2 separate regions of the Homo sapiens genome follow, and region 1 is linked to region 2. The links come from fine-mapping of genetic effects on plasma protein levels. A gene starts in region 2. The other region holds a variant in brackets. All regions are shown on one strand. Distances are between the middles of the regions. Region 1 holds the start of PKMYT1 (protein kinase, membrane associated tyrosine/threonine 1). Region 2 holds the start of TNFRSF12A (TNF receptor superfamily member 12A).

Region 1 (5,359 bases), 38 kb after region 2:
TCTGCCAGTTTGTTAAAACGTTATGCAGGCCTGGTGCAGTGGCTCATGCCTGTAATCCCAGCACGTTGGGAGGCCGAGGTGGGGTGATCACCTGAGGCCGGTAGTTCAAGACCAGCCTGACCACATGGAGAAAACCTGTCTCTACTAAAAATACAAAATTAGCCGGGCGTGGTGGCACATGCCTGTAATCCCAGCTACTCTGGAGGCTGAGGCAGGATAATTGCTTGAACCCGGGAGGTGGAGGTTGCGGTGAGCCGAGATCGCACCACTGCACTCCAGCCTGGGCAACAGGAGTGAAACTCCGTCTTAAAACAAAACAAAACAAAACCAAACCTTATGCAATTCCTTTGGTGTAGTGTCAGAAAAATAAAAGCCTTATGCAAGTGTGGCCAGGCACAGTGCTCATGCCTATAATTCCAGTACTTCAGGAGGCCGAGGCAGGAGGATTGTTTGAGCCCAGGAGCTCGAGACCAGCCTGGGCAACATAATGAGACCCCCGTCTCTACAAGAAATTAAAAATTAGCCAGGGTTGGGTGGTGCACCCCCGTGGTTCCAGCTACTTGGGAGGCTGAGGTGGGAGAATCACTTGAGCTTGGGAGGTTGAGGCTGCAGTGAATCGTGATCATACTATTGCCTGGGCAACAGAGTGAGACCCTGTCTCAAAAATAATCAAAACACAGGCTGGGCGCGGTGGCTCACGCCTGTAATCCCAGCACTTTGGGAGGCCGAGGCGGGTGGATCACCAGGTCAAGCGATTGAGACCATCCTGGCCAACGTGGTGAAACTCTGTCTCTACTAAAAATAAAAAAATCAGCTGGGCATAGTGGTGTGCGCCTGTAATCCCAGCTACTCGGGAGGCTGAGGCCGGAGAATCGCTTAACCCGGGAGGTGGAGGTTGCAGTGAGCCGAGATCGCGCCACTGTACTCCAGCCTGGCAACAGAGCAAGGCTCCGTCTGAAAATAAATAAATAAATAAATAAATAAAATAAAAAACCTTATTCAAGTGTGAAACATAGCATGCAAAGATTAGCACACATGAGATGTGAATGTGCCGTGCAGCTATCGTACTTATGAGACAAACCCCTATGCACCCAGCACCTGGGTCAAGAAGTAGAACATAGCCAGTTCCGCAGAAGCACCCATCACAGTCCCCTTCCTCCCATTAGGATAGCCACGTTTGCACTTGTGGTCGTCATTCCCTCGCTTTTTTTCTTTTGAGACGGAGTCTTGCTCTTGTCGCCCAGGCTGGAGTGCAGTCGCGCCATCTCGGCTCACTGCAACCTCCGCCTCCCGGGTTCAAGCGATTCTCCTGCCTCAGCCTCCTGTGTAACTGGGATTACAGGCGCCCGACACCACGCCTGGCTAATTTTTGTGTTTTTAGTAGAATCGGCGTTTCACCATGTTAGCCAGGCTGGTCTCAAACTCCTGACCTCAGGTGATCCGCTCGTCTCGGCCACCCAAAGTGCTAGGATTACAGGCGTGAGCCACCGCGCCCGGCCTCGCCTTTCCTTTTGTGGCCGAAACCGCATGAGTGAGTCTTCCTTGGAGAGTCTGGGCGGAGCCGCGGGTGCTGTGGCGGCGACGGGACACACGGGGGCGCGCGCGGCCCGCGCCTGGTCGCGCGGGTGGGACTCGCGGGAACCGGGTGCCTGGGCGGCGGCTGGGAGGATTCCTCCTGGAAGGAGGTCGGCAAAGCGCTTTGGTCCGGAACCCTGTGGGCCCGTGCCTCGGTCCCTGTGACCCCAAGGTGGTTAGAGGAGTCCGGGCTTCTTTCCTCCTGGGGCCTCTTTTTGGCCCAGACTGCAGCGTTGAAAACTGCAACAGACTGTACAGATGAGGGGGTCTTACTATTTTATTATTATTATTATTATTATTATTATTATTATTATTATTATTAATTTGAGACCGAGTCTCGCTCTGTCGCCCAGGCTGGAGTGCAGTGGCGCCATCTCGGCACACTGCAGCATCCACCTCCTGGGCTCAAGCGATCCTCCCACCTCACCCTCTTGACTAGCTGGGAGCACAGGTACACACCACCATGCCCAGCTAATTTTTGAATGTTTTGTAGAGACAGGGTTTTGCCATATTGCCCAGGCTGGTCTCTAACTTCTGAGCTCAAGTGACCTGCCCGCCTCAGCCTGCCAAATTGCTGGGATTACAGGCGTGACCACCTCGCCCAGCCTGTTATTCTGAAACAATGAGTAAGCCCCTACTGTGTGTTCGGCTCTGTGCTAAGCACTTCACAGGCATTTTCTCATGTGGTGCTCATACTCCCCGAGGAAGGAGGAACTACTATTATTATCACTTTATATTTTTTACAGGGTCTCACTCTGTTGCCCAGGCTCACTGCAGCCTTTTTTTTTTTTTTTTTTTTTGAGACAGAGTCTCGCTCTTGTCACCCAGGTTGGAGTGCAGTGGTGCGATGTGGGCTCACTGCAACCTCTGCCTCCCAGGTTCAAGCAATTCTGCCTCAGCCTCCCGAGTAGCTGGGATTACAAGCGCCTGCCATCACACCCAGCTAATTTTTGTATTTTTAGTAGAGAAGGGGTTTCACCATATTGGCCAGCCTGGTCTCGAACTCCTGAGCTCAAGTGATCCACCTGCCTCAGCCTCCCAAACTGCTGGGGTTACCAGCATGAGCCACTGCACCCGGCCCTCACTGCGGCCTTTAACTCCAGGGATCAAGTGATCCTCCTACTCCAGCCTCCTGAGGAGCTGGGACTACAGGTGTGTACCACTGTGCCTCACTGCTTTATTTCTTCTTTCTTTTCTTTTTTTCTCTCCCTTTCTTTCCTTCCTTCCTTTCCTTTCCTTTCTTTCTTTCTCTTTTTCTTTCCCTTTCTTCCCTTCCTTTTCTTTCTTTTTTCTTTCTTGAGACAGGGCCTTGCTATGTTGCCTAGTCTAGAAAACTATTATTTTTATCCCCATTTTACACACGCAGAAACTGGGGCAGGCAGGATCGCAGCCCTAGTTTCCCTCACACCACGCACTTATCTGCTCCATCTACTTATTTCCATTTACATATATTTATATTACAGCCTTTCCTCACACAGTGAAATTTACATCGGAAGCATGTGTTTCCATGCTTTTTTTTTTTTTTTTT[TA/A]ATTATCATTGTGAATCAGACTTTAAAAAATGGGCGGTTGGAAGGGGACCTGTTGGGGAGATGGGGCTGGCAGAGGTAGCCCTAGGCAGCTGGGGAGGGGCCTGTGTGTGCCCCAGGCCTCCTGGGGGCCAGTCTGGAGTCATCAACAAGGATCCTGCCTGAGTCACTGGGGCACAGCCGCCAGAGATGCGAAGGACAAGGAAAGGTGCAGGCAGGTGGGCTGCCGCCCCCAGCCAGGATCCCAGCCTCTCCTCCCCCACACTGCTGCTCCATGCACAGAACGTTTACAGAGGGTGCAGGAACTGAATGGGTGGGAAGCTTTGCAGTCCATGACCTGTCAGAGACTTGGGGAGGATGGAGGGTTTGGGGGACTGGTTCTGGAGGCCAGGGCTAGAAGGAGCAGGTAGTCAACAAGTAAACTCACAAACAAAAGATAGAACATCGGACAGAGATCAGGGCAATAGCAAAAATAAGGCGGAAGGAGAGGTGAGAGTGAGAAGGCCAGCGTTTGGGGGAGGGTTGGCCGGAAGCGTACTCCTCCCACCCAGTTAAACAGATAAAGAGCCCCTCGGTGAGGGAAGGAACAATCCCTAGCCCGACTTGCTCCGCGAGGGCCCCTGCTAATCACTTTAGGGGATCATCCCAGCGTCCTCAGCTGTTTTTTTTTTTCCAGGAGAGGAGACTAATCCGAAGCTCAGAAAGGCTCAGTGCATTCCCAAGGTCGTTCAGCCAGGAGAGCGCTGAAGGGATCTGAGCTGAGAGCAAGTCTCAAACTCAGAGAATGGAGGAGCTGCCCCGGAAGTGGCTGCTCGAGGCTGCAGTGAACTATGATCCTGCGGCCAATCGCGGTGGCTCACGCCTGTAATCCCAGCCTTCTGGGAGGCCGAGGCGGGCGGATCGCTTGAGGTCAGAAGTTCGACACTAGCTTGGCCAACATGGTAAAACACCGTCTCTACAAAAAAATGCAAAAATTAGTTGGGTGTGGTGGCGCGCGCCTGTGGTCCCAGCTACTCAGGAGGCTGAGGTGGGAGGAACGCTTGAGCGGGGGAGGCGGAAGTTACAGTGAGTCGAGATCGCCCCACTGCACTCCAGCCTGGACAACAGAATGAGACCCTGTCTAAAAATAAAATACATGAGCCGAGTGCGGTGGCGCGCGCCTGTGATCTCACATACTCGGCAGGCTGAGGTTGGGAGAACCGCCTGAACCTGGGGACTGCACCACTGCATTCCAGCCTTGGTGACAGTGAGACCCTGTCTAAAAAAAAAAAAAAAAGTATCTGAGGCCTGTTGGCAGGGAAGCTGCAGGCAGGCGAGGTCAGGCCAAGCAGAGTCCTGCCTATCTGGAGAGCTTCCTGGAAGAGGCGGCTTTTTCTGGCTCCCGAAGCCGTGCGCTAGGGGTTGGGGGTCGTGCGTCTGGCCTCCCACCGCGACCCTGGTTCAGAACACGGCCGGAGTGAGAAGGGGGGTGCCGGGACCCAGGAGGCCGTAGGGACTTCCTGGTCCTACCCGGAGTAACCCTGGGGCTACGCCTGCTCCGAGCACCGGGATGGCGGTCCCTTTTATGGACCCAAACACTACGCCAGCCCAGCGAGGGCGGTGGGTGTCGGGTGCGAGGCCTGGAGGGCAGTGGGCGTCCCAGGGACTGGGCGGCTGAAGCCCCGCGCAGCGACTCAGAACCAGGCCGCCACCCACGCCCCGGGCCAGCGCGGAGAATCCTGTGCGCCTGCGCAGTGAGCGGCGGGGCGGCTCGGCGGCGCGCACGCAGCACGAGGGGCGGAGCCTCGGAGCCCGGGCACCCCTGACGGGCTGCACTGGGGAGGGGGAGGAGCCTCGAGGCCGGTTTGGAATTTTTGGCGCGAGCAGCTCCGCGCGCGTTCACGGGCCGTTCCCCCTCACGGGAGTCCTCCGCCCGGGCGTCCGGAACAGTCGACGGCAGACTCCGGCCCGCTGAGCCACCCGAGGGGTCCCGTGGCCTCCGCGGACCCGGAATCTGGGCCCTCGCGGACCCGCGCCCCGCCCAGTCGCCCCAGGTGAGCCCAGACCCCGCCGTGAGGGGCCTCGGCGTGGCCACCTCGCCGCTCCCCTCCGCCTCGCCAGGTCTGCGTTACCCCTGCCCCTCAGGCCTCCCCGGCGGCCCGCTCGCGTCCCCTCAGGCCCGCCCCCGCGAGCCCCTGCCTCCCGTCCTCCCCAATTCCTGGTTCCCTTGCCTCGAGCCCCTTCCCAGCGGCGGTCCCGCCCTACTCGCCCCTCCCGGA
Region 2 (5,359 bases):
CCCCATGACCTTCTCCCCAGCCCTGCCCCCACTCAGGTAGGTTCCTCCACTGGCCAGGCCTTCTGCAGAATCACAGGCGGTCCTCACAGCTGACCTCAGGCCCTGCCTCATCGTGCCATTTTTAGCTCTAGCTGACCTCTGGGTTGTTTCCCATCTTGGCTCTTTGGAAAGTGCTGGGAACCCAGGAGCCCCTGGGGACCTGGACCTGGTGGGAGGTGCTCAGCTAGGCCAGCCTCAGCTCCATGCCCTGACAGTCATTTCCTCTTCTAGGAGCCCTTGCTCTGAGCTGCTTCTCTGGCGCTATCCTGGCAGCCTCATCCCTGAGGCCCTCCGTCTGCTGAGGCTGGGGGACACCCCCAGTCCCCCCTACCCTGCAACCCCAGCTGGGGACATAATGGAGCTCTGAGTGCTGGTGGACAGTGCCCCTCCCACCTTCCTTCTTCCCCACAACAGAAGAGACCAGCGACTCCCGCAAAGGGACAAGGTTCCTCCCTCTCCTGCAGAGTAGGCATCTGGGCACCAAGACCTTCCCTCAACAGAGGACACTGAGCCCAACGGAGTTCTGGGATGGGAGGGGTGGGAGCATGGGAAGGGAGGCATCCCACCCCCAAGAAGAACTGAATAAAGATTGCTGAGCAAAGGAAGGCTTCAGTCTGGAACCTGGGGCTTTTGGGGATGGTGGAGAGGGCAGAGGCGCGGGATGCTGGGGTTTCTCCTCAAGATCTTCCCTGGAAAACTGTTAGGGCCAGCCAGGTCCTTGCCGGCTGAGTTCCAGGCATTGAGAATGTGTGAGTCAGAGCCTCACCCCCGCCCCCGCGGCTGGCTGACTCACTCCCTCCCTCCAGCTCAGGGGAGTCAGTCGGGGATCACTGCCTCTCCAAACCATTTAAAGTTAAAGATTCTTTTATTAATAAATTCTCCCTCCCCTCCAAACTCTCCCCAAAATAAATATCTCCTCCCCGCTTTGGGGAGTTGGGGGGGTCTGTATCTTAGGGCCAGCCCTCCTAGTGGGCCAGCCCCCTAGTGTTAAAAATAGGTCCCTAACCCCCCAGGGTGACCCCCGTGGTGGAATTTCAGGACATCTGAGTGAGTGGGGCCTAGTGTCAAGTCTGCCCCCCAAGTCAGCCTGGCCCCCAGGGCCTCTAGGAAGGAGGGCACCCCCCTCCCCTGTGCAAATGCTGCAGTTCCTTAGTCAGTGTCAGCTGTTTTGTGTGAGCCAGCGTGAGGCTCCCTTTCTGTTCTGGAGCCAGAGGCAGGGCAACCAGACACCTTGGAAGGTTCCCCTGAACCCTGGGCCCAGGCCTCAGAGGTGATTCACCGCCCCCCACCCCCCTTGTGGTTGGAGGAGCTTGGCTCCCGCCGCGTCTGGGAGGCAGAGACTGGCTCTAGAATGGATGAATGAATGATGAGTGGGCGAGCCCCGGCTGGCAGGGGGCACATTGTCACTGGATCAGCGCCACAGCTGGGCAGCCCTCTCCGCCGGTCTCCTCTATGGGGGCTGCAAGATAAGAGGTGGGGTCGTCAGCAGCAGAGAAAAGGTCGAGTGCTGACAGGGCTGGGCAGGCCAGGGCACACTTACTGGTGAACTTCTCTCTCCTGCGGCATCGTCTCCAGACCAAAAAGCCAGAAAGCAGCCCCAGCACGAAGGTCAGGCTCAGAGCGCCCCCAAGGATGGGCCAAAGCAGCCGGAAGGGGGCAGGAGGTGCTGCAGCGCCTGGGGGCGGGACTCGGAGTCAGACCTCGCCCCTCTCCAGGCCAGCCCCGCCCCCTAAGACTGAGCCTTCTGCCTTCTCCCAAACGTGGCCTCCTCCCTGACCGGAGCCCCCTCCCAGCTCCCACCTCCTCCCGAATGATTTCCCAGATGCAAAGCTCTCGGCCCCGCTCTGCGCACCAGCCACCCTCCCTCCCAGTCTGGGGTCCGCTGGCCACTGGCCCTGCCCCCCACTCACAGCCCAGGCAGAAGTCGCTGTGCGGTCGCGCCCTGCAAGACGCGCAGTCCATGCACTTGTCCAGGTCCGCGCTCCAGGAGCTGCCGCGGGAGCAGGGGGCGGTGCCTGGGGAGGGGGCCTCGGGTCAGAGGCTGGGGGCGGGACTCGGCTATTCTGGGGTCTGAGGTCAGGGTCGGCCGGCTCGAATAACGTGAGTCACCGGCGCCCTCCCCGCGCATTCCTCACAGGTGACCGCACGGCCCGACCGGGACACGGCAGCTCCGGGAGGGAGGGCGTAGCGCGGGACGCTGGGGGTGGGGGGGGTCAGGTCCCCACAACCCCCCTGCCGCCGGCGGGTGACTCACTCCTGGGCACCGGGCCCGACCCCAGTCCCTCCCCCCGCATAGCTGGGCACTGAAGTCACCGGATGGAAGGGGGCACCCCACATGGTATAGAGGGCACAGACCCTAGTGCCTCTCGACGGCCTCCCCAACTCGTCGATCACTGGGGCTAGTTAGACCCTGTACGGACCAGGCTGGGGGCGTGCCCCTTCCTAGACTAAACATCCCGCCCTCACTCACTTTCTCTCTCCATTCGAAGTACTTCGGACTTGTGGAACTGAAGACCCCCCCCAACCCCAATTGGACGGTGGGAGAAACTGAGGCCCGGATTGTGAATGAAGCTTGGAGAGTGATGGAACTTCCCACAGCCGGGAGCGAGCTGTTTGAAGGCCACCTGACCCCAGATCCCCACATCCGCCTGTTCCCCCAGTTCGGCGCTGTTCTCCAGACACCCAGTCCGGCTCCCGAGCCCCGGCCCGGGGTTCCCCGACCCCGGAGTCCCGCGTACCTGGCGCTTGCTCCCCGGCCACGGAGCGCAGCAACGCCAGCCAGAGCCCCAGCACGAGGAGCCGCAGCAACCGGCGCAGCGAGCCCCGAGCCATAGTGCACGTCCTGCGCCCGCCGCTGTCTGCGCCCGCCGCCGGCCGGCAGGGACCCACGGCCGCCGCCCCGCCCCCGCCCCCGCCTTCCGGGGCGGAGCTCTCGCCTCCGCCCGCCTTGAGGTCCGCTTCGGGACGCCCCGCCCCGCGGCGCCCGCTCAGTTCAGTCATTCATTCAACAAAGTCCTGGCGCGGGAGCTGCCAGGACCCCGCAGGGACGCAGACCCCCTTCCTTGCCCAGCCGGTGATCTAGTCCAGCGTGCGTGGTGTGGGGAAATCAAAAATTAGACACGAGTGCTCGCTTCGGCAGCACATATAGAAATCAGACACGAACGGCCGGACGCGGTGGCTCACGCCTTTAATCCCATCAGTTTGGGAGTCTGAGGCAGGCGGATTACGAGGTCAGGAGTTCGAGAGCAGCCTGACCAACGTGGTGAAACGCCGTCTCTACTCGAAATACAAAAATTAGCCGGGCGTGGTGGCGCGCGCCTGCAATCCGAGCTACTCAGGAGGCTGAGGCAGGAGAATCTCTTGAACCCGGGAGGCAGAAGTTGCAGTGAGCCGAGATCGCGCCACTACACTCCAGCCTGGGCGACAGAGTGAGAGTCCGTCTCAAATAAATAAATAAATAAATAAATAAATAAATAAACAAACAAACAAACAATAAAAAGAAATCAGACACACGACCAATCCATGCAGAGATCACTGCAGCTTCCTTCCCCCCACCTCCCCTTGAGATTGCGTCTCACTCTTGCTCAGCCTGGAGTGCAGTGGTACGATCACGGCTCTCTGGGCTCAGGTGAGCCTCCCACCTCAGCCTCCCAAGTAGCTGGGACCACAGGCCCTGCCCCACCACGTCCGGCTAATTTTTGTATTTTTTGTAGAGACCAGGGTCTTACTATGTTGCCCAGGTTAGCCTGGCCACTACAGCTTTGTTAAGGGCCCGGGGGGTATAACAATTAAACCTGAGGTCAGGAGCTCGAGACCAGCCTGGCCAACTTGGTGAACCCCCGTCTTTACTAAAAATAAAAAAAAGAAAGAAGTTAGCCGGGCGTGGTAGTGGGCGCCTGTAATCTCAGCTACTCGGGAGACTGAGGCAGGAGAATTTCTGGAACCTGGGAGACGGAGGTTGCAGTCAGTCGAGATAGCGCCATTGCACTCCAGACTGGGCGACAGAGAGGGCCTCCATCTCAAAAAACAAAACAGGCCGGGCGCGGTGGCTCACGCCTGTAATCCCAGCACATTGGGAGGCCGAGGCGGGCAGATCACGAGGTCAGGAAATCGAGGCCATCCTGGCTAACACGGTGAAACCCCGTCTCTACTAAAAATACAAAAAAATTAGTCGGGGGTGGTGGCGGGCACCTGTAGTAGTCCCAGCTACTCTGGAGGCTGAGGCAGGTGAATGGCGTGAACCCGGAAGGCAGAGCTTGCAGTGAGCCAAGATCGCGCCACCACACTCCAGCCTTGGCGAGAGAGCGAGACTCCATCTCAAAAACAAACAACAACAACAACAAAAAACCAGCAACATAAAAATAATATTATCTGGCCGGGCGCGGTGGCTTAAGCCGGTAATCCCAGCGCAGTGCGAGGCCAAGGCGGGCGGATCGCTTGAGTCCGGGAGTTCGAGACGCCTGGGCAATATAACAAGACCCTGTCTATACAAAACAAAACATAAATTAGCTGGGCACGGTGGCGTGTGCTGCCTGTAGTCCCAGCTACTCAGGAGGCTGAGGCGGGAGGATCGCTTGAGCCCAGAAGGTCGAGACTGCAGTGAGCCGTGATCGCACCACTGCACTCCAGCCTGGGTGACACAGTGAAAATATTTCTCTAAAATAATACCAATAGTATGCCCTTTAATTTGTACCTTAGGACGTAGTTACATAATAAAATGCAGACTTGTTATCTCCATTTTGCAGAGTAGGAAACGAAGGCTCGGGAAGGTTAGGTGAGTTCCCCATGTCACCGCGCTGCTTAAGTGGTGAAGCGGAGTCTCAAGCTCTGTTCTACCCTAAGCCTGGCGCCCTCACCCTGGGTGAGTCTGGACGTCTGCCAGCCCGAGGCGGGCCCAGCGACCCCAGCCTCCAGCGCCCCCCTCTGACAAGCCTGGGATTCGCACGCCCGCTGCCGTCAGGGACAGGGTCTCTGCCCCTCCTCCGGGGCGGTGGTCCAGTGACGTCACCGCTTCTTTAAGACCCCCGCCTCCGCCCCTGTCCCGACACTCGGCCTAGGAATTTCCCTTATCTCCTTCGCAGGTGAGTCCGGGGCTAGTGTGCGTGTTGGAGAGACGCCTCTTGGGGCCGGGTGCAGGGTGGTGGCGGCGTGGGTAGGGGTGCGTGCGAACTCGGGCTGCGGCCACCTGGATGGGCGAGTCCCTGAGGGGGTCGGCCGGTCCGCGCCCAAGCCTCCGAGGTGATAGGGTCCTTCGGGGCTCCCAAGGGTTAAACGCCCCTCCCCCCTCCCCAGGGACAAAGACTCCGAAACCCCTGGCGCC

What was found. A credible set is the group of variants that fine-mapping cannot tell apart. PIP is the chance, under the fine-mapping model, that this variant and not a neighbour inherited with it causes the effect. The UK Biobank Pharma Proteomics Project read protein levels with antibody pairs (Olink). The fine-mapping took linkage between variants from a reference panel, not from the people measured, so its PIPs are less certain.
Region 1: its variant is the best candidate, but not a certain one, in a credible set for the plasma level of the TNFRSF12A protein (UK Biobank, PIP 0.67).

Annotation. Positions count from the first base shown.
Region 1 is chr16:2,980,061-2,985,419 of GRCh38, reverse strand. PKMYT1 (protein kinase, membrane associated tyrosine/threonine 1) reads left to right here and starts at 4,974. Exons shown (of 9, transcript NM_004203.5): 1 at 4,974-5,134. RefSeq lists silencers at 1,498-1,684, 1,639-1,698, 1,939-1,988, 4,641-5,000, 5,011-5,240 and enhancers at 2,109-2,610, 3,655-4,531, 4,532-5,359. The variant TA/A (reference allele first, on the strand shown) is at 3,104.
Region 2 is chr16:3,017,910-3,023,268 of GRCh38, reverse strand. TNFRSF12A (TNF receptor superfamily member 12A) reads right to left here and starts at 2,901. Exons shown (of 4, transcript NM_016639.3): 1 at 2,778-2,901; 2 at 1,950-2,054; 3 at 1,580-1,714; 4 at 886-1,498. The coding sequence starts at 2,871. The coding sequence ends at 1,443. It overlaps CLDN6 (claudin 6), which reads left to right and starts at 5,086. Exons shown (of 2, transcript NM_021195.5): 1 at 5,086-5,120. HCFC1R1 (host cell factor C1 regulator 1) reads left to right here. Exons shown (of 4, transcript NM_017885.4): 3 at 1-36; 4 at 271-644. The coding sequence ends at 406. RefSeq lists enhancers at 1,190-1,833, 1,373-2,572, 2,479-3,123, 3,892-4,487, 5,085-5,359 and silencers at 1,813-1,982, 2,833-3,052.